Regions from separate parts of the Homo sapiens genome. Here region 2 is linked to region 1. Evidence: fine-mapped expression QTL. Tissue or cell type: aorta. Region 1 holds a variant in brackets; the other region holds the start of a gene. All regions are shown on one strand. Distances are between the middles of the regions.

Region 1 (2,754 bases):
ACCAAAGCTCAAGGCTGGGCAGGGCAGCCAGCTGTGTCCCAACTCACCCCAAGTTTCTGCACTTCATGTCCGAGCAGATGGGCTTTCAGAGGGGACGCTGCCCTAGGGTTTCACAGCCACTTATGCTGAGTGATGCCCAAACCTGTAACTCCCAGTCACTGATCCTAGGATCCTTGAACCACAGGATGCTGACCTCATTTCCCCACCCATTGGTGGATGCGTTCATCAGAGTCTTCCAGAAACCGCGGTGGGGGGATCGCCCAGGATCGCACTCAGGAATCCCGCCGAGGGAGCTCTGTGAATGCAATTTAGGCGACCGCACTTTCTAATGTTTGAAATATTGCGTCTAAGGAGACATTTCTCTAAATGTCACAGGAGACACATGCATGTTTAAGAAATGTACATGAAAGAACATACTTGAGTATATGCCAAGTATGATGACCTAGCTATGATAATTTTCAAAAATGTAGCAATCGTATTGTCAGAAACTATTATTTTAGAGGTTAGAATGTTGACCACCCATTTGTTTTTAAATTATTATTATACTTTAAGTTTTAGGGTACATGTGCACAATGTGCAGGTTTGTTACATATGTATACATGTGCCATGTTGGTGTGCTGCACCCACTAACTCGTCATCTAGCATTACGTATATCTCCTAATGCTATCCCTCCCCCCTCCCCCCACCCCACAACAGTCCCCGGAGTGTGATGTTCCCCTTCCTGTGTCCATGTGTTCTCATTGTTCAATTCCCACCTATGAGTGAGAACATGTGGTGTTTGATTTTCTGTCCTTACGATAGTTTGCTGAGAATGGTGGTTTCCAGCTTCATCCATGTCCCTACAAAGGACATGAACTCATCCTTTTTTATGGCTGCATAGTATTCCATGGTGTATATGTGCCACATTTTCTTAATCCAGTCTATCGTTGTTGGACATTTAGGTTGGTTCCAAGTCTTTGCTATTGTGAATAGTGCCACAATAAACATACGTGTGCATGTGTCTTTATAGCAGCATGATTTATAGTCCTTTGGGTATATACCCAGTAATGGGATGGCTGGGTCAAATGGTATTTCTAGTTCTAGATCCCTGAGGAATC[A/G]CCACACTGACTTCCACAATGGTTGAACTAGTTTACATGGCACCCAACTACTACTCGACATTCGTAACCTTTTATTCATTAGAAATGACCAACGGGAACTTTAAATTACATGACAGCAGTTTCCTTCTTAGAAAGAGGAAGGTAAAACTCAGAGAAACCTATCAAGCCTGAATAAAGGAGTAAACACAAAAATGAAGCAGTTCCAACTCTTCTATGGGGCTCCCTACCTGTGGTCCTTCATCCTCATAATATTATTTTCTGAATGGCCTCTGACAGCCACGATTTCCCCAAATGATCAATGTCGTCAAACTATTCAGCATGGCAGATCAGGAAAATTGTCAGATTTATTTTAGAAAGAATTTTAAAGGACAGGTGGACTCTAAAGGGATGTTGTGCTTAGCTAGATATTCAAAAATGCAATTAACGAACACATTCCTTCTCCAGATACACCGAGTTTTCCTGTGTGTTCAGGTGTTTGTTCCGAGGGTGCGTTAGTGGACGAATTCCTCCACCTGTGCATCTGGAGACCTGGGGATGTCTATGCTCTTTGCCCCCTGCCAGGTAAAAGAGTAAACTTCTAATAATCAGCTCAGATTCCCTTTTGTTGGGTTAGGAGATGAAAATACGTTGTACTGGATTCTCTTTGAAATCTAAAATGTCCGTTGGTTTTGGAGTTTTCTAACAGAACCGCCCTTCAGGTAAACATCCAAAACCTTCCTGTGACCCCGTGCAGAAGCGCCTCCCACAGCCCCCAGAGGAGAGAGGTAACCTCGGCAGATGCTGAGACCAGGGAGCCACCTCTCTTGGGCTGTGCTGGAAGCATCTCTGAGCTCTGCTCAGGTGGGAGTTACTGACACGCATATCCGTGCGAGGGCTGGCGTTTCCTTCTTTCATCAAACTGCCCATCCCCTCTGCAGCCAGTGCAGGAGTCGCGGAGTGCCGCCTTGGCTCTGGCCGCCTGAAGGCCTGCCGTGCTGGAGAGCGGGTCCAGGGGTTGACATCTCTATTCTTTTGTCTGACAAATCTGTGCACTGGCTTGTAAAAAAAATCAATACTGTTTTTCCTTGGTTCTCTCTCCACAGGTGAGCTGGTGGATCGTAGCGGCTCTCCCCGTTCCCGCCTCCAATTCTGTTCTCAGTTTGTTTCTCTTGCTTCAGGGTTGAGCATGTGATCATATCTCCAGCGGACGACACCAAAAGAATGTCTGTGACCTCGTCCCCTGGCGACCACGTCTACAGTGACTGAGTGCTGCCGTGGCTGGAAAGCCAGGGTCTGCATCTCCCAGGACCTCAGGACCTGTGATGAGGTGTTGTGGGGCCAAGAAGAGGAGGGGGTCCATGGTGGGCTCTGCCGCAGGTGACCCTGCGCACTGTCCTAGCACCTGTGCCTAAGGAGATGCCCTCTATGGTACCAAGCATCTCCCAAAATGTGATTTGCTCTTCCTGTGATAGAATGGAGTGGGCTGAGGGGGCGATGGGTGCTGGAAAGCCACAAGGCTGCCATTGATCTGCCAGAGAAGGCACCTGCTCACCTGGCAGGATGCTCACCTGGCAGGATGTTCACCTGGCAGGATGCTCACCTGGCAGGAATAGCAAATTTGCTAGAAAAATGCAGGTTCCCCTGTTCTGGGTGATCTGTGACTTCTGCCACACAGGGG
Region 2 (2,500 bases), 660 kb after region 1:
GGCCCGGGCCTGGCCCAGCTCAGTAACCTCGAGACTCGCGAGCCGCCCCCAGGTCGCCGGAGCAGGAGCTGCGCTCGGGCCACGGAGGACTCAGGCGGCCCTTAGCGGGTCACGCGCCCGCAAGCACGATATTTGAAAGCATGGTCCGCTGGACAGAGTAAGGCCGAAACCTGGGCGCCTCGGGCCGGACTCCGGAGCCGCAGCTGAATGCTCGGCTCCTGGGCCTAACTCGGTGACCCCCACCGCCCTGAGCCCCGCGAGTGAATGCGAACCGCCCGGCCGTCGGCTCAGAGGCCGCAGTGACGCGGACCCTCGCGCCCCACGCCAATGCAGGCGAGCACACAGCCCGCTCCGAACGCCTCCCCAGGCTGCGGTGCGGAAACCAGGGACAAACGGCGCCAGACCCCGGCCCCGGCGGAGACGCACTTCCCAGGCTCTCAGAGAAAATCAGCCGGCGAGCCGAGGGGACGCGCGGGGGGCGCGCGGGTCCCGGCCGGGCTCAGGGACGTCCCCGCCTGCCGCGCTGCCCTCCCCACCCGGGGCCCGGCTCAGCCTGCGGGGCGGCCAACCGAGCCGGCGACTCCTGAGTCGCCAGCCGCGCCACATTCCCGGCGGCCCCCGCCCGCCGAACCCGAGCCCCGCTCCGCCTGAGCCCCGTCTGGGTCCCGGCGCCCAGGAGTCCCGCGTCCCGCCCGCGCCCGGTTACCATGTAGGACGGGAAGCCGGCGGCGGCGGCGGCGGCGTCGGCCGAGTACTGCAGCGGGCTCCCGAAGCCGGTGGCCGCCTGCGCCGTGAAGGCCGCCGAGCCCGGGTAGGGGCTGAACGCCGAGCCCGACGCCGAGCGCGCCAGCTCCTCGCTGCGCGGAGCCGCCAAAGCCGACGCGCCGTAGGCCGGGCACGAGTAGAGCGCCAGCGAGCCGGGCGCCTGGTACAGGTAGCCCTGCGGGTAGGACATGGTGGGCGCGGGGCGCGGGGCCCGCGTCACGCCGAGCAGCGGGCAGGGCGCGCGGCGCCCTCCATCCACGCCCGGCCGGGGCGCGGCGCGGCGGCGGGCACCCGGACGGCCGGCGGAGGCAGGCCGGCCCGGGTACTAGCCTGGGCGGCCCGCGGGCCGGGGCGGCGGCGGGGTGGCGGTGGCGGCGGCAGCAGCGCGGAGCCGGTGGGCGCAGCCGCGCGCCAGGCCGGCGGTCGGGGTTTGGGGGAGTCTGGAGTCGGGAGTGAGGAGTTGAGGAAGGAGCGCTCGAGTTTCCGAGGGACATTGGAACGCGCAGCTGTCCATCACGCGCTCATCTGCATATTCGGGGGCCCGCCCCTCCCCTGCTCCGCCCGCTGCAGCCTCCGGGCCGCGGCCGGGGGAGGGGCAGAGAGACGGGAGGGAGGCGGGGGAGGGCGGAGGCGACGGAGGCGGGCGGCGGGAGGGACCGGCAGGCTTTTGTGGCGCAGCCGCCTCTCTAGCAGCTCCGGCCCCAGCCCGCGGCTCGCGGACCTGCAGCCCAGCCCGGCCGCGCTGCGTGCCCCGGCGCGCACCCCTCCCACTCCCATCCACTCGGAGCCACGTCCCCTGCCCGGCTCCGGCCGGCTCCCACCGTCCCCGGCCACCGTCTTCGCCCCTGCCCGGCCCCCGCCCCTTCCAGCCACTACCCCGCCCCCACCCCCTTCTCCACCCTCACGGACTAGGCAGAGGCCGCCCGCGGTCAGGCCAGGCCGGGTCCAATTAGGGGACTCACAGCCTGCCCCGCTGTGCACCCCGAGGAGGCCCGGCCCCTGTGTCCAATCCGGAAGTCGCAGGGAAGTGGGGAGGTCAGGATGGTGGCGCCCGCGGCTCGGGTCTTCCTCCGGGCAGTGCGCGCGGCTCTCACTTCCACGGTCCCGGACCTGCTCTGCCTCCTGGCCCGAGGCTCCCCGCGTGGCCTCGCGTCTGGTCGCCTACCCCTCGCGGTCCACTCCGCCCAGCATGGACCTGGATCCGGGGCGCCTTGGTTGCGAATTGCCAGGAGGGCCCTGAGGTGAGCTTTCTGCCCCCAAATCCGCAGCGCAACCCCCGGGGCCCTGAACGTTACGACTTTCCACTGTTGGGAATGACGCCAGGGCTTCAGCTAAGAAGACGCCGTCCCCTAAAGAGTTTTATTTTATTTTGTTTTTCTAAGTTGACTCCTCTTTCAGATTTGTGTTGTCAAAACACTGGGGGGATGATTGTTACCTGACAAACCGCCTCTGGCAGGACCTGAAGCCTCCCAGTCACGTCGAGAACGGGCAGGAGCTCAGGTTGGCGCCGCCGGTGCAGTGGGCATTACAGGTAGCTCAGGTGACGCGCGGCTGGAGTAGGGGGGCGGTTGCCTTGCGGGGCTCAGAAGCGAGGCGGTTGGCGAGGGTTCCTAGGACCCCAGCTTCCTAGAACCCTCTCCCCATCACGCTTCTCCAACCCTTTTCCACTCGGGGATGGCCGAAGAGGGCGTCTGGCTGCCCACTCCGAAGGGTCACCTATGGGGGGCGCTCAGGG

Which allele goes with the higher level. Positions count from the first base shown, and alleles are read on the strand shown. Sizes are in standard deviations (SD) of each study's normalised expression.
With allele A in place of G in region 1, the expression in aorta of the gene that starts at base 1,219 in region 2 is lower (small effect, 0.29 SD a copy in GTEx).

Evidence for each region. PIP is the estimated chance that this variant, and not a neighbour inherited with it, causes the effect.
Region 2: IRX2 starts here. The variant in region 1 is the best candidate, but not a certain one, in a credible set for the expression of IRX2 in aorta (GTEx, PIP 0.56).

What each region holds. Positions count from the first base shown.
Region 1 is chr5:2,094,985-2,097,738 of GRCh38, forward strand. It overlaps LOC105374618 (a long non-coding RNA gene), which reads left to right. Exons shown (of 13, transcript NR_171679.1): 8 at 1,542-1,658; 9 at 2,255-2,754. Among named protein-coding and RNA genes, the nearest start is that of CTD-2194D22.4, 210 kb to the left of the region's middle. The variant A/G (reference allele first, on the strand shown) is at 1,098.
Region 2 is chr5:2,750,459-2,752,958 of GRCh38, forward strand. It overlaps IRX2 (iroquois homeobox 2), which reads right to left and starts at 1,219. Exons shown (of 4, transcript NM_033267.5): 1 at 707-1,219. The coding sequence starts at 955. It overlaps IRX2-DT (IRX2 divergent transcript), which reads left to right and starts at 1,435. Exons shown (of 4, transcript NR_122126.2): 1 at 1,435-2,006; 2 at 2,222-2,296. RefSeq lists an enhancer at 1,334-2,258.